Linked DNA regions of Homo sapiens. The protein of the gene in region 4 interacts with the protein of the main gene of each other region in a biochemical or structural test. Each region holds a gene or a part of one and is shown on either strand. Other genes may lie near its edges. The genes, in order: MAPK8, PLA2G4B, PARG, CASP3, PKN1, CTTN and NDUFS1.

What was found.
Region 1: of the proteins of CASP3 (region 4) and MAPK8, one has a biochemical effect on the other in vitro, tested with the Homo sapiens proteins (one study listed by BioGRID).
Region 2: of the proteins of CASP3 (region 4) and PLA2G4B, one has a biochemical effect on the other in vitro, tested with the Homo sapiens proteins (one study listed by BioGRID).
Region 3: of the proteins of CASP3 (region 4) and PARG, one has a biochemical effect on the other in vitro, tested with the Homo sapiens proteins (one study listed by BioGRID).
Region 5: of the proteins of CASP3 (region 4) and PKN1, one has a biochemical effect on the other in vitro, tested with the Homo sapiens proteins (one study listed by BioGRID).
Region 6: of the proteins of CASP3 (region 4) and CTTN, one has a biochemical effect on the other in vitro, tested with the Homo sapiens proteins (one study listed by BioGRID).
Region 7: of the proteins of CASP3 (region 4) and NDUFS1, one has a biochemical effect on the other in vitro, tested with the Homo sapiens proteins (one study listed by BioGRID).

The regions. Positions count from the first base shown.
Region 1 is NC_000010.11:48,425,177-48,428,676, reverse strand, and holds part of MAPK8 (mitogen-activated protein kinase 8), read right to left. Parts: intron 2,790-3,500; coding exon 2,607-2,789; intron 2,298-2,606; coding exon 2,173-2,297; intron 1,598-2,172; coding exon 1,534-1,597; intron 1-1,533. UniProt on the Homo sapiens protein: Serine/threonine-protein kinase involved in various processes such as cell proliferation, differentiation, migration, transformation and programmed cell death.
Region 2 is NC_000015.10:41,841,847-41,845,244, reverse strand, and holds part of PLA2G4B (cytosolic phospholipase A2 beta), read right to left. Parts: coding exon 3,296-3,398; intron 3,053-3,295; coding exon 2,969-3,052; intron 2,692-2,968; coding exon 2,654-2,691; intron 1,570-2,653; coding exon 1,434-1,569; intron 775-1,433; coding exon 638-774; intron 398-637; coding exon 175-397; intron 43-174; coding exon 1-42. Other genes in the region: JMJD7-PLA2G4B protein, read right to left, coding at 1-42, 175-397, 638-774, 1,434-1,569, 2,654-2,691, 2,969-3,052, 3,296-3,398. UniProt on the Homo sapiens protein: Calcium-dependent phospholipase A1 and A2 and lysophospholipase that may play a role in membrane phospholipid remodeling.
Region 3 is NC_000010.11:49,855,028-49,858,527, forward strand, and holds part of PARG (poly(ADP-ribose) glycohydrolase), read right to left. Parts: intron 2,427-3,500; coding exon 2,279-2,426; intron 1-2,278. UniProt on the Homo sapiens protein: Poly(ADP-ribose) glycohydrolase that degrades poly(ADP-ribose) by hydrolyzing the ribose-ribose bonds present in poly(ADP-ribose). PARG acts both as an endo- and exoglycosidase, releasing poly(ADP-ribose) of different length as well as ADP-ribose monomers.
Region 4 is NC_000004.12:184,632,448-184,635,947, forward strand, and holds part of CASP3 (caspase-3 isoform a preproprotein), read right to left. Parts: intron 2,972-3,500; coding exon 2,847-2,971; intron 1-2,846. UniProt on the Homo sapiens protein: Thiol protease that acts as a major effector caspase involved in the execution phase of apoptosis. Following cleavage and activation by initiator caspases (CASP8, CASP9 and/or CASP10), mediates execution of apoptosis by catalyzing cleavage of many proteins.
Region 5 is NC_000019.10:14,453,806-14,457,305, reverse strand, and holds part of PKN1 (serine/threonine-protein kinase N1), read right to left. Parts: intron 1-3,500. UniProt on the Homo sapiens protein: PKC-related serine/threonine-protein kinase involved in various processes such as regulation of the intermediate filaments of the actin cytoskeleton, cell migration, tumor cell invasion and transcription regulation.
Region 6 is NC_000011.10:70,429,529-70,433,028, forward strand, and holds part of CTTN (src substrate cortactin), read left to right. Parts: intron 1-1,662; coding exon 1,663-1,752; intron 1,753-3,500.
Region 7 is NC_000002.12:206,149,445-206,152,944, forward strand, and holds part of NDUFS1 (NADH-ubiquinone oxidoreductase 75 kDa subunit, mitochondrial isoform 1 precursor), read right to left. Parts: intron 3,067-3,500; coding exon 2,975-3,066; intron 482-2,974; coding exon 374-481; intron 1-373.

The DNA.
Region 1 (3,500 bases), on a different chromosome or scaffold from region 4:
ATATTCAAATGCAGCAGACTCTATCCAATTTTATCATTTTGTCATTCTTCTAACTTTATCACGGGCTCTGCTAACCATGGGTTTCCCAAAGTTCAGAGAAAACCAATCTCTAAATCTCTTCAATTTCTAAGAAAGAATCAAATTCATGCTTAGCAAAATACATTTATAGATGGGTCACTTATTCATGTTTATACCTCCCCAGTCCCCTTTCCTTTCCCAGGATTTAGAGACAACTCTTAATAACAGGTCTTCTGCCTCTATTTTAAGATGAGGTAAAATGCAGGGGGCAGTGTAGGAGGGTGAGATGAAGGGGGAGTGATTTACTCAAAGTCACGCAGTTACAAAAGTGGTCAAAACACTGAAGGACAATAACACAAATGGAAGTAAACGGGACCTAAAAATTACCTGACCCACATGTCCCAGGGCACCTTTTGAAGAAATATTTGAAAACTTCCATGACTATCAAAGCATGATTAATTTCAGCCACATTCATAAAATAGAATAAAACTACATTAGATTTACAAATATTAAAAATTAACCCATTCTGTAGGCAAGGGTGAGGGCAAAGAGAGACTCCTATATAACATGGACGGAAGTGTACACTACTACCATTTCTTTGGAGAGTAATTTGGAAATAACTGAAAAATATCTTTGGCTCAGAACATCTCCTTCCAGGATTTTTCTTCCAGGCATGTTCTCATATGTGAACATGAATATTGCAGAGTTGTTTCTAACAGCAACAGACTGGACACAATTTAAATGGTCACCAAGAGGGAGATGGATATATAAAGTGTGACATATTCATACAGCAGAACACTAACCAGTTATTAAAGCAAGAGAGGCAGATACGTGAACTAAAAGAGAATAACCTTCCAGATATCTGATTATATCAACAAAGCACTCACGCCTATAATCCCAGCACTTTGGGAGGCCGAGGCGGGTGGATCACGAGGTCAGGAGATCGAGACCATCCTGGCTAACATGGTGAAACCCTGTCTCTACTAAAAATACAAAAAAATTAGCCGGGTGTGATGGCAGGCGCCTGTAGTCCCAGCTACTCAGGAGGCTGAGGCAGGAGAATGGCGTGAACCCGGGAGGCAGAGCTTGCAGTGAGCCGAGATCACACCACTGCACTCCAGCCTGGGTGACAGAGCGAGACTCCAACTCAAAAAAATATATAATAAATAAACAAAGCAAGTACATATAGCATACACCGTACACAACCATACGTGATTTTAAAAGGGTGGAAGAGGAGAGGTGGGAGACACTAAACACATTTGTGTATTCACAAACCATGGAAAAAAATATGAGACAGAGCACTAATGTGTCTGTGTCTGGGGTGGGAAACTTGGGAACTTAAGATTAAGTTAAGGAAGGAAGCAGACTTACTTTCTACTTATGTAAAAATATTAATATTACCACATTTCGGTTATGCATATTAAAGTCACAAATTTCTCTAACATGATAATAAATCACCATATAAAAACCAGAAGCTCCTTCACAGTTTTCCCTCTAAGAATCTGACGAATGTACCTTTCCACTCTTCTATTGTGTGTTCCCTTTCATCTAACTGCTTGTCAGGGATCTTTGGTGGTGGCTGAAAAACACAAGGCAATAATAACCAAGTCAGTATGCTGGGAGTATTTTAACTCTGTAGTTATTTGAAATATTAGCCACACAGATGACTTATAAAAATATATCATTAGATCAAGACTGATCAATCATCAACTTACTTATACAGACATAATAGTTTAGGAAGACTCCTTCATTGCAGGAAATAAAATGTTTAACTGTCTTTTTTCTTTTCTTCTAGCTCTTGAAATTGCCACATTTTATTTATATCACAGATCACAGAATTCTGTTTTCCTTTGGATACAGTAATTTGTTTTATACCTGAGTTAGGATGTTCCCCCAGAGCATTCAACATCCTAGTTCTCTGGTTAGGTATCCAGGCAAGATTGCAAAAAACAGTGGGAGGTAACTTTATTTTGTGTAGGAGGGGCTCGAATATGTTCATTAGTTTATTTGACGTAGTCTTCATGAAGAAACAGAAAAACATCATCATCATGTATCTACATTTTTATTTAAAATTAAAAGGTCTCCTCCAAACCTAACTGTCATTCTAACTCTAAGAATGCAATATGTTCTGTAAACATTAAGAAAATAACTTACAGCTTCTGCTTCAGAAGGATCATACCAGACATTGATGTACGGGTGTTGGAGAGCTTCATCTACAGAGATCCTTTTAGATGCATCTATTACCAGCATTTTGGATAACAAATCCCTTGCCTGACTGGCTGCAAACATAATGGTGTTAATGTACATATATTTGTAAAGATTCTCAAATTATTAATAACTTTCAGCAATTTGAGATTTTTTAAAAAGCATATGTTTTAAAAATATTACTGTAAAATTATCTTATACATATGATTAAAATATATAAGATTAAAGAAAAAAAAAACAAAAACCTCATTTTTTTCCCCACCATCCAGAGAAAACCTTGGGTTCATGTCCCATAAGAATATGAATACATATAAACACACAAACCCATACACACACACTACACACCCCAAATGGGATTAAATGTACATATTTGTAAAAAGTACCTTTAAGTTTGTTGTGTTCTGAGTCAGCTGGGAAAAGGACATCAGGGAAGAGTTTCTCAAAGCTATATCCAGCATATTTAGGTCTGTTTTCAACGTAAGTCCTTACTGTTGGTTGCAGTTTCTTCATGAATTCAGGACATGGTGTTCCAAGCTGTTCAATAACTTTATTCCACTGATCAATATCTAATATCAAGTAGCTAAGAAAAATACTCCATAACTAATGTTCAATACATTAGTCATATTCATATTACAAGAAAATAGAAATTTAAAAATTCCTAAGAAAGGATGTGGCAGTTATAAATTTTATATCTCACAGGCACCCTGCAAAAGGCAATGATTGTAGGTGGACAGAAATGATCAATAAATAAGCTTTATTAACCTTATTTATTGTGTGTTCAAACTAACTGATTTTACCTTAAAATGGAAGCTTAAACTCACAAATTCTAAATAAAATGATAAGCAACTAAGAATAATGACAATTACTATCCATAGTGGCTCTAACTGCAAACTGCACACAATGCTATAATAATATACAAAATTTTTCCTTTTCTGTCAATTTATCAGAAAACATGATTATATCTCCTAGACAATATTTCTAGAACACATCCTGTTTTACTGAGTTTTCTACACTAACAGAAAATAATCAGTTGTAATAAAAATAAAGGCTTCGATAAAAGTGGCATTTTCTTTTGCCATTCTTTGTTTAGCTTAGGTTTAAAAAAATTTTCTAAAGCTCTGACCCTTATAAAAAAGATTCAGTTTTTTGCTAAGTTGTAAGGTTAGGATTTCTTGGTCTCCTTTCCTCTAGTCTTTACACTCCAGGACCCTGAAGGCCAAGGCCTAAAACTCACTTATTGTAACCTTGTGAATATGCCTTTTCCCATTCTTCCTCCT
Region 2 (3,398 bases), on a different chromosome or scaffold from region 4:
ACTCAGGGCCTCCCGTTGATCTGAGAGCTTGTGATCATGGGGCTGGGGAAAGATGCGTAGAACCTAAACCCACAGCGGCCTGGGTGCCCAGGGCCTTTCCCACCCTGCTGTCCAGCACCGAGCCCCAGCTCCAGCCCTTGCCCTGGCTCTGCCCCCAGGCCGCAGCCCCCGCACCTCATCATGCAGCAGCGCCTCGTTGATGAGGGCCCACAGGTTGGTGAAGCAGCTTGGGTAGCCCAAGCGGGCACGCTCGGCCAGCTCCTGCCGGTACCGCTGCAGCTGGCTGGGGGCCAGCACACCCAGCTTGTTCTTGGTCACCTGGGTCTTCAGCAACTCAGTGGGCCCTGCCAGGTCCTTCTGAGACCACTCTGGGTCCTCATAAAGGTTGGCCAAGGCCCTGGGAAAAGCCAAAGCCAAAGCCAGAGGGCTGTCACTGAAGGACCCCGTCTAGACCCCACGTGCCCCGGGCTTTCTAGGACAATGGCCTGGCAGGGACCTTCCCAGGGTCCCCTTGAGCACGTTTCTCCCTGGCACATTCATTCTCCCAGCCCTTCTAGTTTTCTCAGAGGCCTAGGAGAACCCTGGCACCAGCACCCCCTGCCACACAGGGTCCAGCATCAGCCTGCCCCCAGCTCACCAGGTGGAGCCCGAGGCCCCGGTGATGTAGGAGACGCAATCCAAGAGGCCCAGCTCCTTCAGGCCAGCCAGCTGCCCATACAGGGAAGTCATTGCCCGGATCCCACCACCAGTGGCCATAATAGCTACCACTGGGATCTGGAAAAGAAGAGAGCCAGGCCTGTAGAGGCCCTAGGGATGGGGAAGGCCAAGTCACAGGAAGAAGAGGTAGCAGGTCAAGTGGCCACCCAGCCCACAGCTAAGGCCTGATCACAGGTCTTGGGACCAGTTCTCAGTCAGCCCTGGGGGCCAGAAACAGCCTTTTGAGTGCCCAGCTCCTCCAGTCCTAAGGGCTCCAGGAAAAAATGGCCCAGGCAAGTTCTGAGCCTCATCTCCTTGCCCTCAGCCCCCGAGCCTGACGCTCACTTTCTGGAAGCCCCAGGGCCCGCCTCAGAATTTTCCCAAATTGCCATCACTCCCCCAGGAGACGGCCCAGGCTAATATGAACCTCCTGAAGCACCCTGGGCCAACAGGCCTCATACCAGATATCTGTCTCCCTCCTCAGACAGGCTAGGCTGAGAACCAAGAAACAGAGTAGGAAAGCCAGCCCTATGAGGTAGCTCCCATGTGGGCTCCAGGTGCCTCAAGCAACACTCTGCCTGTACCAAGTCCCTGCTAACACCAGGTGAGAGGAAGCAGGGTGGGGACAGGCAGCTACGAGCTCTGGTCTAGATCGGGGACAAGCAGCTCCAGTGTTCAGCACCAGGAGCTAGGCCCAAGCAAGCCCGGGGACACCCCATCCAGCCCAGCCCCCAAACCTCATCCTCCTGCAGGTCTCCGTCCAGCTGCAGGGCCTGCCTCAAGGCCGCGGCCACCACCTGCTTCCTCCTGCTCAGGAAGGCCTGCTCCTCTGCACAGGGCCCGAAGCCCAGTCGCACGGCCAGCTCCCTCAGTCTGGCCGGGGAAGGAAGAGACTGTGAGACAGCTCTCAACCCTCCCCAGAGAATGGAAAGCTGGGTCTGCCTCACCTGTAATACCTACTGCCCTCCCTCTTCTCCCCAACCCTCAATGCCACTCCCGTGTCACAAGACTGAAGTTTGACACCTGGGGAGAGTGTGTCCATGTGGACATGCTTGGGAATGCAGCAAAGCAGACTGGCAGGACCCAGAATGCCGTGGCCGAAAGAGGCTGCTTGGGGTCCCAGGTGCAGACAGGCCCCCAGGCAGGCCCCATACCATAGATCCCCCCCCTCCAAGTCTCGTGTTCTGTCCCTTACCCACGGAGTTCAAAGCACTTTGGGAGGCTGAGGCAGGCATATAACTTGAGGCCAGGACCAGCCTGGCCAATGTGGGGAAACCCCATCTCCACTAAAAATACAAAAATTAGTTGGGTGTGGTGGTGGGCACCTGTAATCCCAGCTACTCGGGAGGCTGAGGCAGGAGAATCGCTTGAACCCCAGAGGCGGAGGTTGCAGTGAGCCAAGATCACGCCATTGCACTCCAGCCTGGGCGACAGAGAGAGACTCCATCTCAAAAAAAAAAAAAAAAAGGGCAGGGGGCGGGGCAGAAAAGGACCAATAATCCTGTGTCTGTGAGGTGAGAAGCCACTCTCTCAAGACAGAGGGCCAGGGTGGGCGACAACTCTACGAAGATCATTTAAGGTCCAGCCATAACAGCTTCCACCCAAAAGGGCGCAATTTCCCCTCTTCTCTCCCTTGGTTTTCCTGCCCTCTCTGCGCCCCAAACCATGTTACCATTTTCCATCCTTGCCTCCCTGCGTTTTCCAGCCAAACATTTATCAAGTGCTCCCCGGGTGCCTGGCACTGGGCCGGTCACTCGCCCCTCTGACCATAGGTGCTAAGACTCCTCCCAGTACTCCTCCCAGTACTTCGTGCCCCCTCGAGCGCAAGCCTGAGCCCCTTCAGAGAGCATGAGGATGAGGGGCGGCTGTTTCTCCCCCTCACTCCTCCAGGCCTCCTCCAGCCCCGCACCCTGGTTGTTTTCCAGGGCCTTGCCCAGTCCCCAGCCAGGCCTCTCACCCTGCTTCTTTTTTCAGCTCCACTCTCATCAGGGGCTCCTGAAAACCGTGAAGGCCCCAGTCACAAAAGGTCGGCCACCTCCACCCAGCTCTGGTCCTCTTACCCTGATCCCCGGCGCACCACCCCCGCCCCGCCACCGTCTCCACAGGCGCCAGGCCTGAAGCAGGGATGCTCAGAGGACACTCCCCAAAGAGCCTGGCCCCAGCACCTGCTCAGGGTGTGACCCACGGAGAAGCGGGAAGCAGGCCCCTCCCTTTGTGGCCTGGGTCCCAGCCCCATCCAGGCGCCTTGCTTCCTTCCCTGGGAGGCCAGTACCTGGGACGTGGGGAAGACAAGCCTCACCACTTGACCAGAGGGCAGGGCACTCAGTGGCGCCTTTAGTTGCTCCTCGGGGGCATCCTGCAGGGGACAAAGAATGCAGACCTAAGAATCTTTACGCTTCCACTCCTAGCAAAGACCTCACCAAACTCCCGCCGGCAGCCATAGAGTTATGGGAGGGACGGGAAGGGGAGGCCAGCATGGGCCCACACATGCTGCCAGGGTGCCCACTCTGCCAGGTGGAGCAGAGGTCAGACTGGGAGGAGGTGCAGAGGGAGGGAGGAAGTTCTGGGGGCCCCACCTCGAGGGAGCGAGGCACACTACCTGCAGGCGAATACTCAGCTCCTGCTCCCAGCAGGCTGGGCAGTGGAAGCGGAAGGTGCCAGTGCCCACAGAGGCCTCCTGCGGACCCTCACAGGACCCAGGA
Region 3 (3,500 bases), on a different chromosome or scaffold from region 4:
GATGTTGGACTTAGTAGACAAAGAATTTACATGAGCTATTTAAAATATACTGAAACAACTAAAGAAAACTATGTCTAAAAAACTAAAGTATAAGAATGATGCCTCTCAAATAGAGAATATTAATAAATAAAGGGATAGAAATTATAAAAAATAAACAGAAATTTGTAATTGAAAAGTACAATAACTGAAATAAAAAATTCACCAGTGAGATTAAAAGCAGTTTAGAGCAAGCAGAAAAAACAACCAGTGAACTTGAAGACAGGGCAATTGAGACTGAGCCTCAGGAACAAGAAGAATAAAGAATGAAGAAAAATAAACAGAGCTTCTGAGACCTGTGGAACATCAAGTGAATCAACAAACACGTAATTTGGGAGTCCCAGAAGATGAGGAAAGGGGAAGAACAAACATTTGAAGAAATAATGGCCCAACATTTACCAAATATAACAAACATTAGAGAGGTTCAAAAAACTTCAAGTAGGATAAAGTCAAAGAGATCTGCATGTAGACACACCATATTCAAACCATTGAAAGTCAAAGAGAATCTTAAAAGCAAAACATAAGAAAATATACTCTTCTGAAGGTTGTCTACAAATCTATCTGAGGCACAGTGTGGCTTCAAGATTAGACTTTGGAGTCGGTTTTGTCATGTATGTCTTTGGAGGTAATGCGGTTGGGTACACATTTTATATAACTCATGGGGAGGGTTTTTCTCCTATTATAATTTTTGGGAATAACAATAAACTAAATTCTACAACCCAGGTGAGTGTTTAGACCCCGAAACTCATCTCCAAGCAGTAACAGATTCTAAGTGGAAATAAAAAATCCACTTTTTCAGGAAAAAAAAATAGTACCAGCAACTCATGGTGCATTAACGGCACTTATGTGGGAATATTCTTTTACGTACTTGAATAAAAGACTCAACTTACATATGGTGCCTGATTAAGAGTTTCTTAAGAGATATGAGGTAATCATCATTTTTCTTGATAGCTTATTCAAAGAAAATACTGTTACATAGTGATCTCAGTCTGAAGAAACAAAAAAAAATTAAATCTCTATAACAGACCTAAAGCATACACGTGACTAAATTTCCCCCCTCCTCCTCCCATATTAGCGTAAAGAAATCAAGAAGGACAAGAAGAAACACCAAGATAATCAGACTTTTTTTTTTTTGAGATGGAGTCTTGCTCTGTCGCCCAGGCTGCAGTACAGTGGCGCGATCTCAGCTCACTGCAACCTCTGCCTCCCGGGTTCAAGTGATTATCCTGCCTCAGCCTCCTGAGTAGCTGGGATTACAGGCACCCACCACCGTGCCTGGCTAATTTTTGTATTTTTAGTAGAGACGGGGTTTCATCATGTTGGCCAGGCTGGTCTTGAACTCCTGACCTCAGGCCATCTGTCTGCCTTGGCCTCCCAAAGCGCTAGGATTACAGGCATGAACTATCGCGCCTGGCCATGATAACTGAACTTTTTCTTTTAGGATTCAAAATAGGGTAAACAAAAGGTTACTGATTTCTCTAAATACTGTTCCTGTGCTTCTTATATTTACACAATGTCTTCATACTAAAGTACAAGAAACCACTTGAAAATTATTTTTAATAGAAACAAATCACTCTCAAATGGAAGAATTACAACAGAATACATACTAGAGGCATATCACTATGTTCTTCTTAAGAGCATTATTATGTCATAAAATTTCAAACTGCCAAGCGTGGTGGCTCACGCCTGTAATCCCAGCAATTTGGGAGGCCGAGGCGGGCGGATCACCTGAGGTCAGGAGTTCGAGACCAGCCTGACCAATATGGAGAAACCCTGTCTCTACTAAAAATACAAAATTAGCCGGGTGTGGTGACGCATGCCTGTAATCCCAGCTACTCGGGAGGCTGAGGCAGGAGAATCGCTTGAACCTGGGAGGAGGAGGTTTCGGTGAGCCGAGATTGCACCATTGCACTCCAGCCTGGGCAACAACAGCAAACCTCTGTCTCAAAAAAAAAAAAAAAAAAAAAAAAATTCAAACTGTGGGGTAACTGAATAGTTTTTAATCCCTGTTCCTCAGATAAAGATGCCACGAAAGAAAGAAAAGGTAAAAATAAGATGTCTTACTTAAGATTAGGAAAATAAGGCTGTAATAATTTCAAAAACTAAGTATAAATTAATGGATAAAAATATTGGGACTGATGCCCATGGAAGATAAAAGCTATACTGGGTAGTCTCTAGTCTTCATGACAGATATTCACAGATGGGGAAGACTACCCCATTTTCCAGGCTTCCCAAAACTAACCTGTGATAATTAGACATTCATTGTGATCCAGCACCTCAGTGAAGAGCCGTGAAATAATCAACTCAGGATTGATTAAAAAGCGGATTTCTTCTTGCACAAGTCCTGCACTGGTTACACCACCTCCAACAAAACGATTTGCAAAATCCACCTGTTGGGGAAATGTGACATATTAAATAATGGTCAAAAATACCTACACATATGATCAAGAAGCACATAGTCTCTAAGCTCTCATCTTTTCCTCTCCCATGAAAATCAATCCCCAAATAAGTAATCTTCCCAGGAAGGGCAGATTTTGGTTGCTTAAGCTCTTTCCACCTCACTGCAGTTAACATCTCTGCACATTTTTCTGGATCCCAGAACCAGAGAAGCAATCTGGAAAATGGAGCTTTTAGGCAAAATATTATGTATCATACAGACTCTTGTTTATAAACCTATTTGTGTCTCATGGGCCACAAATCAAGGGAGGTCTTTATCTGGGAAGGTTTCAAAGTCATTCTCCCCCATTCACTACTCAACTTCCCTTTATGTATTTCACGTGACTTTAATATAATTAAACTTTTCTTATGTAATATGGTAACCAAACACTTGCCCTAAAGAACTGAAAAGTTTAGTAATCAACTTTTTGGGTAACCTTTTCCAACTTTATTGTAAGAATAAAGAGATCGAATTTTTGTCCTTCTAAATTCAACCCCAAACCCCAAACTACATGAACATTACAAACTACTTTTTAAAAATATAACTAAGGAAAAAAGGAAGAAAGAAAACCCAGTATAGCAACAAAGATTCAATTAAAGTAATATTTCCAATTAGGTTGGAAACTCTTAAGCTTTATGTGGAGTAGTATGATGGGATCCCCAAATGCCTACTAATAAAGAAGAATTACACAATCCTCCAGAGAAAGCAAACTCAACTTGCTGGCATTATTTCCGTTTGTCCAGTGTGTCCAGCACTATGCCAGCCTCATGAAGCAGTATGTAAGAAATAGCAACCATCTTTTCCTTAGTGAGACTATCTGAGGAGTTAGATCACACACACACACACACACACACACACACACACACACACAACTTGTGTATATACATAGTCATACACACAAGTAAAATAGGATTTACTAAATACCATGAGGCTTATATTCTTTCAAACTATTTTAAAATATACGATTTCTTAAAACTTCAGTGTTCTCTAAAGCAACTGATACTAAATGACAATCTGAAGCCTATTT
Region 4 (3,500 bases):
CTTTGAAATGAAATTAACTACTCAGCAATTCAGAAGTCCACAATAAATTCTTCCTTTTAAATGGTAAGAGAATTCTAACTATTTTGAACATGGTGAACAAAATTTCTTCAATTTTGTAGCTTATAAGATACTTCATAATATAAGCTCATCAGTGTTATAGCCAAAATGATGTCTTTCACAGCGGTTTAGGTAGTGAAAAACACAAATGTCTAACAATAAGGGTTTGGTTAGACAAGCTATACTAACTTATATAATGGGATATACTATGTTGTCATTTTCACAGATAAAATGTTGCCATGGGAAAATCATCAGTTTAAAAAAATAAGACTAGAAAACAATACGATCCTATAATACATACACACATCTGTCACACTCAGAGGAAATGCGTTTCTCTGACTCTAACTTCCCAACAATTTTAAGATAGCATTACAACATTTATAGTGCCTTCAAGGAAAACCCCCAAACATTATTACTGTTCATCAGGTATTCTGCTATGGCTAATCTCTAATCCTTCCAATCACCATGAGAGTCATATTATTACTAGTTTCACTTGTGCAGATGTGGGACATGTAGCAGAGTTAACAAACCAGTCCAAAGTGACAAAGCTATGCTGGGCCTGTATCCAGGGCTCCTGGGCTTTCTACCACTCCTTTAGAGAACCTTCCACATTAACGTACAGATTGACTGCATGATGCACTCAGATTTCAAAATGCTAAATCTTGGTGGGAAACATCCCTCAGAATTGAGTAAATTTGATGGGTATGAAGATTAAATACAGAAAGTCTACATGTATCTCCAAAATGTTGTTGATTATCTCAGCTGTGTGACAAGGTCACTGGCTTCTGGTGCTGATGTGTTGGCTGCCTTTTAATTTTTATTTATTTTTATTTTTTAGACAGGATCTTGCTCTGTGGCCCAGGCTAGAGTACAGCAACCACAGCTCACTGCAGCCTCAACCTCCCAGATTCAAGCTATCTTCCCACCTCAGCCTCCCGAGTAGCTGGGACTACAGGTGCGCACCACCACACCCTGCTACCTTTTTTCTGTTTTGTAGAGATGGGATTTCCCTGTGTTGCCCAGACTGATCTTGAACTTTGGTGCTCAAGGATCCTCCTGCCTTGGCCTCCCAAAGTGTTGGGATTACATGTGTGAGCCATGGCGCCTGGCCCAACACCAGCCTGCCAGAGATCTCATGAGAACCTGACCTTTACATTGCAAAGTAGGAAAGGAGCTCACTGGGCAAAACCCAGACTGCTGGTCTAAATATGTGGGGGGAGGTGCTGGTGGTAGTGGAATAATATGCTTGTTTTTGGTTTTTGAAACAATAGAGCCAACAGTGCAAAATTCTATAGGAAGGAGGTATCCTAACTAGAAATGTGAGGCAGAATATCTAGAAGTAAATTTTCAAATATGCGTAAAGCAAAAGTAAACAAGGTGTTGTGTTTTTAAGTTAATGGTTGAAGGTGGCATCTCAACTTATAGCCAAAAGCAATAAAACTGATGCCATTTAGAGCTCCATTTTCAACTATTCTCTTCTCACTCCTTATAATTAATCTGACACAAACCCTGCTATCTTCCCAGTGTAATCTGGCTTCCTTCCATTTCCACCACCACTCTGATAGGTACTGGCCCACCTTAGATCTACTACAGCTTCTCTAATTAAAAATTAACTCTAATATGATTAATAGGCCAATTCAAAGAATTATCATAGCATCAATTTAAAAGGGAAACAGCCATAATGTTCATTCATACAGTAAATTATTCAAATTAAGTGAATGGTAGTTTTGGGGATGCAGTATTATATAATCATTATAACAGATATGAAAATTATGCAGCAATATGAAAAATGCTATTCCTTTAAGTGAAACAAGCAGAAGACAACATTGCTTATACGTTATGAATAAAATCAAGCTTTAAAAAGAACTGCCAAGAAAAAATAACAATACACCAAATATTAATTAGCTTTTTTGGCACTGTGAAGGATTTTATTATCTATATTTCTAAAAAAACATTCTCAAATGTAGTACTACATTCAAGTTGTACATAGTACAGAAATCGAGAGGGGGATCTGGTGGCAAGGCCATGGTAAATTTAAAGCAAGCAGTTTTAGTAGTAGAGACAGAAAATGGAAAAAGACTCAAGAAGGAATGGAAACAAATGAAGAGTACAAGCTTAAACTACATGTATTCAAAATTTAAGGAAGAAGGGAAGGAGACAAAATATCAAAGGAATCAAAAGGAACAGAGTAAAAGAAAGGTCTCTCTAAGATGGGGAGCTTCGTAGGGTAAGGGAAGACAGGCAACAGAGCACATGAGGATACAAGGAAGTGAAGCAGAACAGAAGATGGATTCAGAGCTTGGGCTTTGGAGCCACACAGACCTAGCTCTGCCGCCATACTGTGTGACTGCGCGAGGTCTTTAACCTTTCAGAATCTCATCGTTACTTTCCAGGTTGTCATAAATTAAATAAGGCAATGCTTGTGATATCTCTTGCAGTTTCTGGGGAAAAAATAAATACTACCACTTAACTGTTTTTTTGAGAACCTTCCATTGGGATCAAAGAGGAAGCAGAAAGAAGAAAAAGAAGCAAGGGCTACAGAGAAGTCAGGGCAGAGGCAACCAAGCATACAGATAGGAGGCCAGCAAGAGGAGGCTATGAAGTTGGGCAGAAGAGTGACGCGTTCACAGTGTATCAGAGGACCTGTAGGTCCTGCCCAATCTCTACTTCACAGCTAGTCTGTGTCACGGTTTACTGTCTAATACCTCAATAATACTGCTTTTAATATTATATCAAATGTAAATGGCACAAACATTTGAAAAGGATTAAAAATTATGTAAGACACATACCAGTGCTTTTATGAAAATTCTTATTATTAATTATTATACATAAACCCATCTCAGGATAATCCATTTTATAACTGTTGTCCAGGGATATTCCAGAGTCCATTGATTCGCTTCCATGTATGATCTTTCTGTTTAGAAATCAAATAATAGCTTTACAAAGGTAGAAATGACCACGCCTTCTGTTTATATTAGTGCAATTTTTATAACTCACAGTAACAGTTAACACTTGTTGAATGTTATAAACCAGGCTGTCTTCATTTCAATTTCACATCAACAGTTATACAGATGAGAAAATGACCTGACGTGAGGCTAAGTAATGTGCTAAAGGTTATGCAAATATTGTGTCACAGCCAAGAAGGAAGGAAAGCATCTGTTGGACTTCAGAGTTCAGGCTTTTAACTTCCATGTTTTACATTTTCCTCTAAATTCTTCAAAATTTCATCAAATACCTTTATAATTTAAAAATTACTTATTAACTTTGTGAAATATTTTATCCTTTGAGGTAAGAGTAAAAATCTTAAAAATTACCCTGAAATGATGGGAAATCAACAAAATGCAAATATAACTCAAAGCACAATATTTATCACAATTCATAAATTATTCCTTAAACCCCATGAGCTAAACAAATTAGTAATTTATTAATATATAAAAGCATTA
Region 5 (3,500 bases), on a different chromosome or scaffold from region 4:
TTTTTTTTTCAGTAGAGATGAGTCTTGTTATGTTGCCCAGGCTGGTCTCAAACTCCTGGCCTCAAGTGATATTCTCCTGCCTCAGCCTCCCAAGTATCTGGGATTACAGGCATGAGCCACCAGGCCTAGCTGTCTGCTATCTTTTTAAAATGAATCCTCCCCTCCATAACTTTTCTCCCACTGTAAAGTTTTGCATTTGACATTGAAGCCTTTAATCCAGTTGATTTTTTTACATGGTGTGATGTGAGGCAGGGATCCAAATTCAATTTTATTCTACATGGAAGTCCCAGCCACATACTCCTAAGGATTTATTTATTCATTTATTTTTTGAGCCAGAGTCTCTCTCTGTCACCCAGGATGGAGTGCAGTGGCACAATCTCGGCTCACTGCAACTTCCACCTTCTGGGTTCAAACAATTCTCGTGCCTCAGCTTCCAAAGTAGCTCAGACTACAGGCGCACACCACCATGCCCAGCTAATTTTTGTGTTTTTAGTAGAGATGGGGTTTTGCCACGTTGGCCAGGATGGTCTTGAACTCCTGACCTCAAGTGATCACTGGTCTTGGCTTCTCAAAGTGCTGGGATTACAGGCGTGAGCCACCGCGCCCAGGCACTCCTGAGGATTTACCCTAGCCAAATGCATGTGGGTATACATCAGGAGATGCATTTATATAAAGTGTATGTAACAGTCCAAAATAGAGGCATCCCACAGTCCATTAACAGGAGAATTAATATTTTAAAACTGCTATACCATCTTAGTAGCTGAAGTACGAAATTGCTGATATTTAACTATTTTTTTGCTTTCAGAAAGAGGCAATTCGATATGGCTCAGTCTAACATAATGGATTACTAAACAGGAATAAATATGAATTAACTATAGCTTGTCACAACAAAATGGATGAGTCTACCAAAACAATGCTTTTTTTAGTTTGGTTTTGTTTTTTGCATTTTTTTGTAGGGTGGGGTTTCACCATGTTGCCCAGGCTGGGTTCAAATTCCTTGGCTCAAGCAATCCCTCCACCTCGGCCTCTCAAAGTGCTGGGATTACAGGCATGAGCCACTATGCCTAGCCCCTAAACAATGTTGAATGAAAGAAGCCATGTGATAGAATAGTCTGTATGAGCCTGTCAATATAAAGTTCTAATACCAGGCAAAATTAAACAAAAGTTTTTGGGGATGCAAACATGGGGTTCTACAACTACAAATTATAGCAAGGAAATGATAAAAGTCGGGAGAGTAGCCACCTCTATGGCAGAGGAAGGAGATGGAATTGTGGAGGAGACAAGAGGGGGCTTCTGGAGAGCTGGAAATATTCTATTTCTTTTCCTTTTTTTTTTTTTTTAAGATGGGGTCTCGCTCAGTTGCCCAGGCTGGAATGCAGTGGTGCAATCACAGCTCACTGTAGCCTTGACCTCCTGCGCTCAAGCAATCCTCCCACTTCAGCCTCCCAAGTAGCTGGGACCGCAGGCACAAGCCACCATGCCCACGCCTGGTTAATTTTTGGTTGGCTTGTCTTCTCTTTTTTTCCCTTTAGTTTTTTTTTCTGTGACACAGATTCAGGAGGGCCTGATGACATGTACCCCCAATTTTTTTTTTTTTTGAGACAGAGTCTTGCTCTGTCACCCAGGCTGGAGTGCAGTGGCGCGATCTCGGCTCACTGCAAGCTCTGCCTCCCAGGTTCATGCCACTCTCCTGCCTCAGCCTCCCGAGTAGCTGGGACTACAGGCGCCCACCACCACGCCTGGCTAATTGTTTGTATTTTTAGTAGAGTTGGGGTTTCACTGTGTTAGCCAGGATGGTCTCGATCTCCTGACCTTGTGATCCACCCGCTTCGGCCTCCCAAAGTGCTGGGATTACAGGCGTGAGCCACCACACCTGGCCATATGCCCCAATTTTTAAATTATTTGTAAAGACAAGGTCTTGCTATGTTGCCCAGGCTGGTCTTGAACTCCTGGGTTCAAGTGATCCTCCTACAAATACCAAAATGCTGGGATTCCAGGCATGAGCCGTGGCACCTGGCTGCCATATTCTATTTCCTAACGCAGGTGGTGGTAATATGGGTGTCTGCTCTCCTGTTACTCTTCTCCACACTCCCTTTTTTTTTTGTACATACGTATTAATTTTCTTTCTTTTTCCTTTTTTGCCATGAGATTACGAATCAAATTTTCTTTTAAAAAAATTATGGCCAACATGGTGAAACCCCATCTCCATAAAAATACAAAAATTAGCCGGGTGTGGTGGCGCACGCCTGTAATCCCACCAGCTATTTGGGTTGGCTGAGGCAAGAGAATCGCTCAAACCGAGGAGGCAGAGGTTGCAGTGAGCTGAGACGGTGCCACTGCACTCCAGCCTGGGCAGCAGAGGAGAATCTGTCTCAAGAAAAAAAAAATTATGGTAAAATACATGTAACATAAAATTTACCATCATAATCACTTTAAAGTGTCCATCCAGTTCAGTGGCATTAAGTACATTCACATTGCTGTGCAACCATTACCACCATCCATCTCCAGAACTTTCACCTTACAAAACTGAAACTCTGTCCACATTAAATAATAAACTCCCCATTCCCCCTCCCTCTACTCCCTGGCATCCATCATTCTACTTTCTGTCTCTATGAATCTAACTACTCTAGGAACCTCATATAACTGGAATCATACAATATTTGTCTTTTGGGGACTGGCTTATTTCACTTAGACTAATGTCCTCAAGATTCATCCGTGTTGCAGGATAAGACAGGATTCCTTTCCTTTTTTTTTTTTTTTTTTTTGAGACAGTGTTTCACTCTGTCACCCAGGCAGGAGTGCGGTGGCATGATCTTGGCTGACTGCAACGCCTGCCTCCTGGGCTCAAGCGGTTTTCCTACCTCAGCCTCCTGAGTAGCTGGGATTACAGGCATGTGCCACCACACCCGGCTAATTTTTGTATTTTTAATAGAGATGGGGTTTCACCATGTTGGCCAGGCTGGTCTCGAACCCCTGACCTCAAGTGATCCACCTGCCTCGGCCTCCCAAAGTGCTGGGATTACAGGCATGAGCCACTGCGCCTGGCAGGATTTCTTTCCTTTTTAAATCTGAGCAATGTTCCATTGCATGGCTGGCCCACGTTTTGTTTACCCATTCATCTATTGGTGGATCTGGGTTGCTTCCATTTTTGGCTTTCATAATGCTGCTATGAACACAGGTATACATATCTCTGAGACCCTTTTTTTTTTTTTTAAATATTTTTCTATCACTATTTTTAAAACTGACAAATAAAAATTATATATATTTATCATGCACAACATGTTGTTTTGAAATATGTATGCATTATGGAATGTCCGAGGCCCTGTTTTTAATTCTTTTGGGGATATGCCCAGAAGTAGCTTTGGATCATATGGTTACTCTTGTTTTTTTGTTTGTTTGTTTGTTTTGAGATGGAGTCTCATTCTGTCACCCAGGCTGGAGTGCAGTAGCATGATCTCTGCTCACTCCAACCTCTGCCTCCCGGATTCAAGCAATTCTCC
Region 6 (3,500 bases), on a different chromosome or scaffold from region 4:
AATGTCAGCCTGAGTCTCTTCTCACCCCTCCCCCTCTGGAAGCCCCTCCTTTCCCAGGTGGAAGTTTGGGGTTTGGAGGGGACTCTGTGCAGAGGCAGCCTGCTCTCGGGGCCTGCTTCTGCTTGGCCAGCCCAGCCCCGCTCACCCAAGCCCCTGGGCTGTGGAGAAGCGCTCCCAGAGAAAGATGCCAGAAGTGCACCCCTGGCAGGGGCGGAGCACGAGCCTGTGTCTGGGTGCTTTGGGTCTAGCCTGGGTGGCTTGCCACTGACAAGGACTTTCCTTGTGCTCAGCTGGATCAGGGGGGTTGTGAATAGAGCCTGAGGCCTACAGATGTGTGTGTGTGAAGTTACCAGGTGTGGTTCTGCAGCTGGGGCATCTGCAGTGTGGGGCAGGCCCAGCCTGTCTGGAAGCCTGGGCTTCTCCTATCCACCCCAGGCCCTGCCCCTGCAGGGCCACACAGGACGTGCTACTTTGGGTGTTTAACCTGTGGATGGCATCAGGTGACGTGGGAATTTACAACTGTCCTGTTGGGGTCAAGCAAGGCCATAGATGCCAGGAACCGTGCTAGGGTCTCAAGACCAGGGGTGGTTTTCTCTTCAAAAAGACAAGACAGCACTACCATTGTTCCCGTTAGAGCAAGGCCGCCTGCAGAGGGAGAGGAGGGAAGGGGTTTGGAGTGGACACCTGGGGTTCAGATCCTGCCTGGGCAGCTCCCTGGCCAGTGTGCCTGTGCCTGCCACCTCACCCTCAGACTCAGCGTCTGGCACTGGAGCCCACAGGCTGTCAGTGAGTTTCCTGTTGCTGCCGTAGTCACCACCACACACAGCACACAGCTAGTGTCTTATAGCTCTGGAGGTCAGAGGTCCTCAAAGATGTCAGCAGGGCTGTGTTCCTCCTGGTGGCCCCTCGGCCCTGTCTTCCCATCTCCAGCCTCTGCTTTTGTTGTCACCGCCCCTCCTCTGTCCCTCACACTCCTGCCTCCCTCCTCTCAGGACCTTGTGATTACATTGGGTCCACCCAGGCAGTCCAGAGTTCTCCCCATCACAGAACCCTTAGTTTCATCACATACACAGTCCCTCCCCATGGGGTCTGGGGACTGCGATGTCAGCAGCTTTGAGGGGCTATTATCCTACCCCAGTTCATCCTTTGGCCCCTAAAGCTTCATGTCCATCCCATGTGCAAACATACTCAGCCCATTTTAAGGTCCCCAAAGTCTCAACCCATTGCAGCATCAACTCAGACTCCCAAATCTGTGCCTAAACTATCTAATCGTGTGTGGGCGAGAATGAGCTGTGGCCCAGTCCCGGCACTGTCGCGTCACTGGCTGTGTGATCTCGGCCTCAGAGCACACCTGCCCCTCGAATCCTGCCTAGGTGCTGGTGGGATCTGAGGCTTGGTGCTCCAGCTCCCCTGCCCCTCGGATCCTGCCTGGGTGCTGGTGGGATCTGAGACTTGGTGCTCCAGCTCCCCTGCCCCTCGGATCCTGCTGGGGTGCTGGTGGGATCTGAGGCTTGGTGCTCCAGCTCAGCCTTGGTGTGGGTGTTTTCCACTCCTTTCCCCAGAGCATGCCTAGAGCTTGCACACGATCTTCTGAAACACGGCAGGCGTGACAGTGCAGAGTGTCATGGCAGCATTCTGATTGCTGTTTGTTTTCAATCACAGGAGCAAGCCAGAGCCAAAACGCAAACGCCCCCTGTGTCGCCCGCACCTCAGCCAACCGAGGAGAGGCTGCCCTCGAGCCCCGTCTATGAGGTTGGTGTCTTTGGTGTTTGAATGAGCGTGAGTGACTTACTGCCAGAGCCCAGGTCCTGTTTGTGGAGTGGAGGAAGCCCTTGCAGGCAGGCAGTGTGGCGTGGGTGTAGAGGGCATCGCTGCATTCCACGCCCGGAGAGGGGTGGGCCAGGAGCGCCTGGGGGGTGGGTGACATGCCTCAGTGCTGTCAGGGGATAGCTGTGCAGGCCCACATGCCATCCTTTCACCCCTCTGCAGCCTGTTGTAGTCTGGCCACTGTCACTGCAGTCCCTGCTGTAGTCACCTGCTATCAGATAATCAGATGGGGGTGTCTTCACCCCACTTGCTCTCTGCTGTGCAGGACGCCGCCTCACTCCCTAATGGCAGTGCTGCCCTCCTTCATCACTGAGCCCCTGCCTCCCGCACAATCTGCCTTCTATGCCTGCCCCATTCAGCTCTCCAGCCTTGCAGCCCCTCATGAGTGTGGCTGCAGACATGCTGTCCGGCCCCTCCCTGTGCTGCTGACCCCCTCTCATGGGTCCCCCAGTGTTCCGTCCCCATCCCTGAGTTACGGAGCCGCCTGCCGATGCCCCGCCCATCCCTGACTTTGGGTCTCCTGCTCCCCGCCAGCACCTCTGCGCTAACCACACCCTCTACCTGTAACCACCTCTCCTGTCCCCAGCCCTTGCCCTTTCTCCATCCCATGGCCATCATCCTGGTCTATGCATTCATCTCTGCTCGCCCAGGAGCCAGTCAGTTACAGGGGTCACACTCCAGACCATGGTAGTTCAGGAGCCCAGAGAGAGCCCTGGAGACAGGCCGGGTCTGGGATCTGGGCCTCGATGGCCGTGGCCTTGTCACCACCCGACTGTCCCTCCTTGGCTACGCTGCTGCCTGCTGCCTTTACCCTGCCGGGCCCTGGGGGGATGTGGTAAGTGAGGCCTTGCAGCTTGTCAGGAACCGGCCTCCCCCTCTAGTCCCTCCCCTTGGCAGCCAGCGCCATCTGCCTCAAGGAAGCTCCGACCCTGCCCCTCCCGTGCAGTTCAGCCCTTGTGTGGTTCCTGGTGCCTGTGCTGAGGGTGGAGTCGCTCTCCCTGCCCGATTACTCTCCCTGGCTAGCAGCTCTCCACCACTGGCTCTTCCCAGATCTCCTGGGTGCGCGGTTCTGAGCTGTCGGCATTGCTTTCTTTCAGTCACTGCCGGTGACATCAGGTGGACCCTGGTCAGAAACATTGATTAAAGCCACTGTCGGTGATAAGCAGTTCAGAATTTTCGCTGGGGCTCCGAAGCGGCAGTGGTTATAGATAGAGAGGTGTTCCACTGCGCACCTTTGTAGTTGAATGTGATTCTTTGGCGATGCCCTGTCTGTAGGCTCAGCTGCTCTGGAGCCACGTGGTGAAGCCGCTGTCAGGCAGGGCCAGGGTCGAGCAGCACAGGCAGGAGGGTGGCCGCTCGGCCCAAGGGTGCCTTGTGTGGCCTTGGAGATGAGGCCTAAAAAAAGAAATCAGCCAAATTAACCCAACAAAGACAGGCTCTACCCCCAGGCAACAGTGTGGGCAGGGGCGTGTCTCCTAACCTGCTGTGTGGGCGTGGTTATTGCAGGACTGGAGTGTCGGTGGTGAGGACCGGGTCATCATCGGGAAGGAAATGGCATGTGGGCACTCACCACCATGGTGAACACACCGGCAGGCCTGGCCTTCCTATACCGCGTCTGTTTTCTCAGTCCTGGCTGGGACTGAGAATTAGATGGCCCGTGGGTTTCTGCTGGC
Region 7 (3,500 bases), on a different chromosome or scaffold from region 4:
TGAAAGTGAACTTCTTCCCTGCAACCCTTTTCTCTACTAAAAATGGCAGGGCGTCAGCACTTTTAATGTGCTACTTGGCAACTCTACATCCTGGTTATATATTATACAGCCATTTGGAAATACTGACAACTATAAATCACCTTTAATTTCTAGATATGTTACAATTATATGACATGTGTTTGTAAAGCACTTCTATCTATGTGTTTCCAGTTTTGAAATGAAGAGAATCAATTGTACAAAAGAATTAAATTTATAGATAGAAGTAAAGAGGGCTAGGTTCTCCACTACGATATTGATTCTAAATAAAGTTTGCTGCAAGATTTAAAGTTTTCTACCTTCTACAGCATGGTGTAGAATTTTAGGTATCAAGTACCTTAGGGGCTTTCTCAATTTCAACAAGGCACATCCTGCAGTTTCCAGCAACAGACAACCTTTCATGATAACAGAATCGAGGGATCTGCATGCCAACCTTCTCACAAGCCTAGAAGTAAAAAAAAAAAAAAAAAAAAAAAAAGCATTAGAATAACCTGACTTCACTGCTGTTATTGCTGAAACACACACATACAGCATCTTATTACTTCTATCTATCTATCTATCTATCTATCTATCTTAATTCATTCTTATTTCAGTCCCTTTCTTTGCCTTTGATTCTAACCCGTCTCCTCTGAAGCTGCCTCAGAGGATCTCAGGATCCTTGGCGTGACTTCACCTTATGTGGAAGAAACTGGATAAAGTATCCTTCCACTGTGCTGAAGACTTGACTTCCCACATCCATTTTGAACCATTGTCCACAATGTCCCCAGTGGTTTCATACCTGGACTTCTTCTTTGCCTCGCTCCCCTCCTTTGGATTAGAGATTTCACTACACATTATCTAGCTGGCTATCTGTCTTTGGCTCCTATATGCTACCCAGGACTCACCTCCCACTGTGGCTGAAGGTTTTCCCAGTTTCTGTTTGCCCAGTAAGGGGGATTATCCCTGCTCTGCCAATTATCACCTACCCTGCTCTGCAATTTCTTCCTCCTTTTAGTCTATAAACATGTTCAAATTTCCTCTAGAGTTAGTTCCTCATCCTCAGCCTTCATTCTAAAGCAATCTCATCAATTTCCAGTGTTTAAACTATTTAGTTAGCAAAAATGTGTTGAGTCTTTCCTTTGTGCAGGATGCAGGTATAGTAGTGAAAAAGACAGATAGTGTCCCAGCCTTCATCCTAGCTGACATTCCTTATGCTGATTATGTCCAAACCTTAATCTGCAGCCATGTTAGACCTCCACTTCTCCAAGCTTCAGATTTACAGGTATTTGCATGTGTATGTTCCACAGACAGCTTAAATTCAAATGATTTCTCTCCCCTCTATACACTCCAAAATAACCTAACAAATGCAGAAAACCACAAGAATTCCTCCGGTCTCTTTGAGTTCTAAAGAACTATTTGTCTGTGGCTCTACTGAAACTTCTTTTGTGTTTTTTTTTTCTCACTGTTAAAGCAATATTGGGAAGTTCTGTACGACGGGGGAAAAAATCCCTCGGGTCTTCATCATTCCTGAAGGCCTGTCTACATTTCATTCTCCCTTGAATCTACTCTCTTGTTTTCATTCCCATTGACACTATCTATTTTAGGGCTTTTGTAGTATCCTGTCCCAATAATACAAAATGCTTTTTCCTTGTCTCTTATTCCAGTCTTGCTATTCTCCAAATGATCATCCTCTACAGTCGCTGTCACCCTGTTTAAATAGGCAACAAAACTCCTGATGGATCAAAATATAAGCTCTTCTGCATAGCAGATACTGTATTTCATGACTGGACCTTCCCTTCCTCAATAACTTGATTTCCTGTGATCTCATCTTCTACTTATACCTTATGTTTCATCAATATTAAACTATTTGAAGCTTTCAAAATATGACAAGCTATCTGCCTTAACTTTTTCCATAGGAAATGCAAGCATGTCGTTCTTGTTCACAATATGAACACACCTGTTCATCCTTTAACACCTCCTCAGGGATGACCTGAGGCACCCAATACCTCTTTCTACTACCTCCTATCCCTGCCACAACTTTTCACTGTACCTTGAACATACATTTATATCATATTTTGTGCTTTCATGTCTGTGACTGGCAGATAGTCTAGAAATGACTGCTAAAATGAACAAAGAACATTTAGATCTGTGACAACTTACAAATGGAGTGAAGCATGACTTCTCTATGACCAATTTATTATTTCTGGAGGAATATGAAGAAATATTTAGAGCATGAATGTAAGCACATGCTACCCTCCATTTACCTGCTTTGTAGGATATATTCCTATGAATATTACTAACCACAGAAAGGTTATATGAAAATGAAAAGCATTAAGCAGGCCCACAACAAATGGAGGTTATTTTTTCACAAACTTACCTATAGTAACTAATTTAAGTTACTTCAAATTTCTTTTCTTTTTTTTTGAGACAGAGTCTTGCTCTGTTGCCCAGGCTGGAGTGCAGTGGCACAATCTCGGCTCACTGCAACCTCCGCCTCCTGGGTTCAAGCAATTCTCCTGCCTCAGCCTCTCGAGTAGCTGGGATTACAGGTGCGCGCCACGATGCGCAGCTAATTTTTTGTATTTTTAGTAGAGAAGGGGTTTCACAGTGCTGGCCAGGCTGGTCTAGAACTCCTGAATGATCCGCCCGCCTCGGCCTCCCAAAGTGCTGGGATTACAGGCATGAGCCACTGCGCTCGGACTTCAAATTTCTTAATGGGTATTCATTTGGAATGAAAAGTGAAACAAAAGAACTACCATAATTCACTAAAAATGCCACAAACAAATATATGATAGCTCACTTTGAAGTGCCAAGATTTAAAATGAAATAATTTTAATATAACTTTGCTGTGTATAGTTATTTTAAAGAATTATTTACTAATAATCAGTATAAAGGAAATAAATTAGTATTTTTAAAAAAATCAGAACACACACACAAAATAGTTAGAATGTATGCCTACTTGGAGGACGGTCGTTCCCGGTTCCACCATGACAGACTGACCATCAACAAATACTTCAATCAAGTTGCTTGCTGCTGTGGCAGTTGTTCGAACTGACCATCAAAGATATTGAAGCGAAAAACAGATTAACAGTTTATTATAGCAGATGATAATGGATGAATTGACTCTAACTACAAACCTAAAATTTTTCATTCCTTATTATTCCTCTGTATTGCTCTGGATGCAAACTTATGGTTGTCTACTTTTGATAGCAGAGTAGTTTAAACTGAAACTTCTTTCTTCTTCTTTTTTTTTTTTTTTTTTTGAGAGGGAGTCTTGCCCTGTCACCCAGGCTGGAGTGCAGTGGCGCCATCTTGGCTCACTACAACCTCCACCTCCCCGGTTCAAGCGATTCTCCTGCCTCAGCCTTCCGAGTAGCTGGGATTACAGGAACTCACCACCACGCCCGCTAATTTTTGTATTTTTAGTAGAGACAGGGTTTCGCCATATTGGCCAGGATGGTCTCAAACTCCTGACCTCAAGTAAT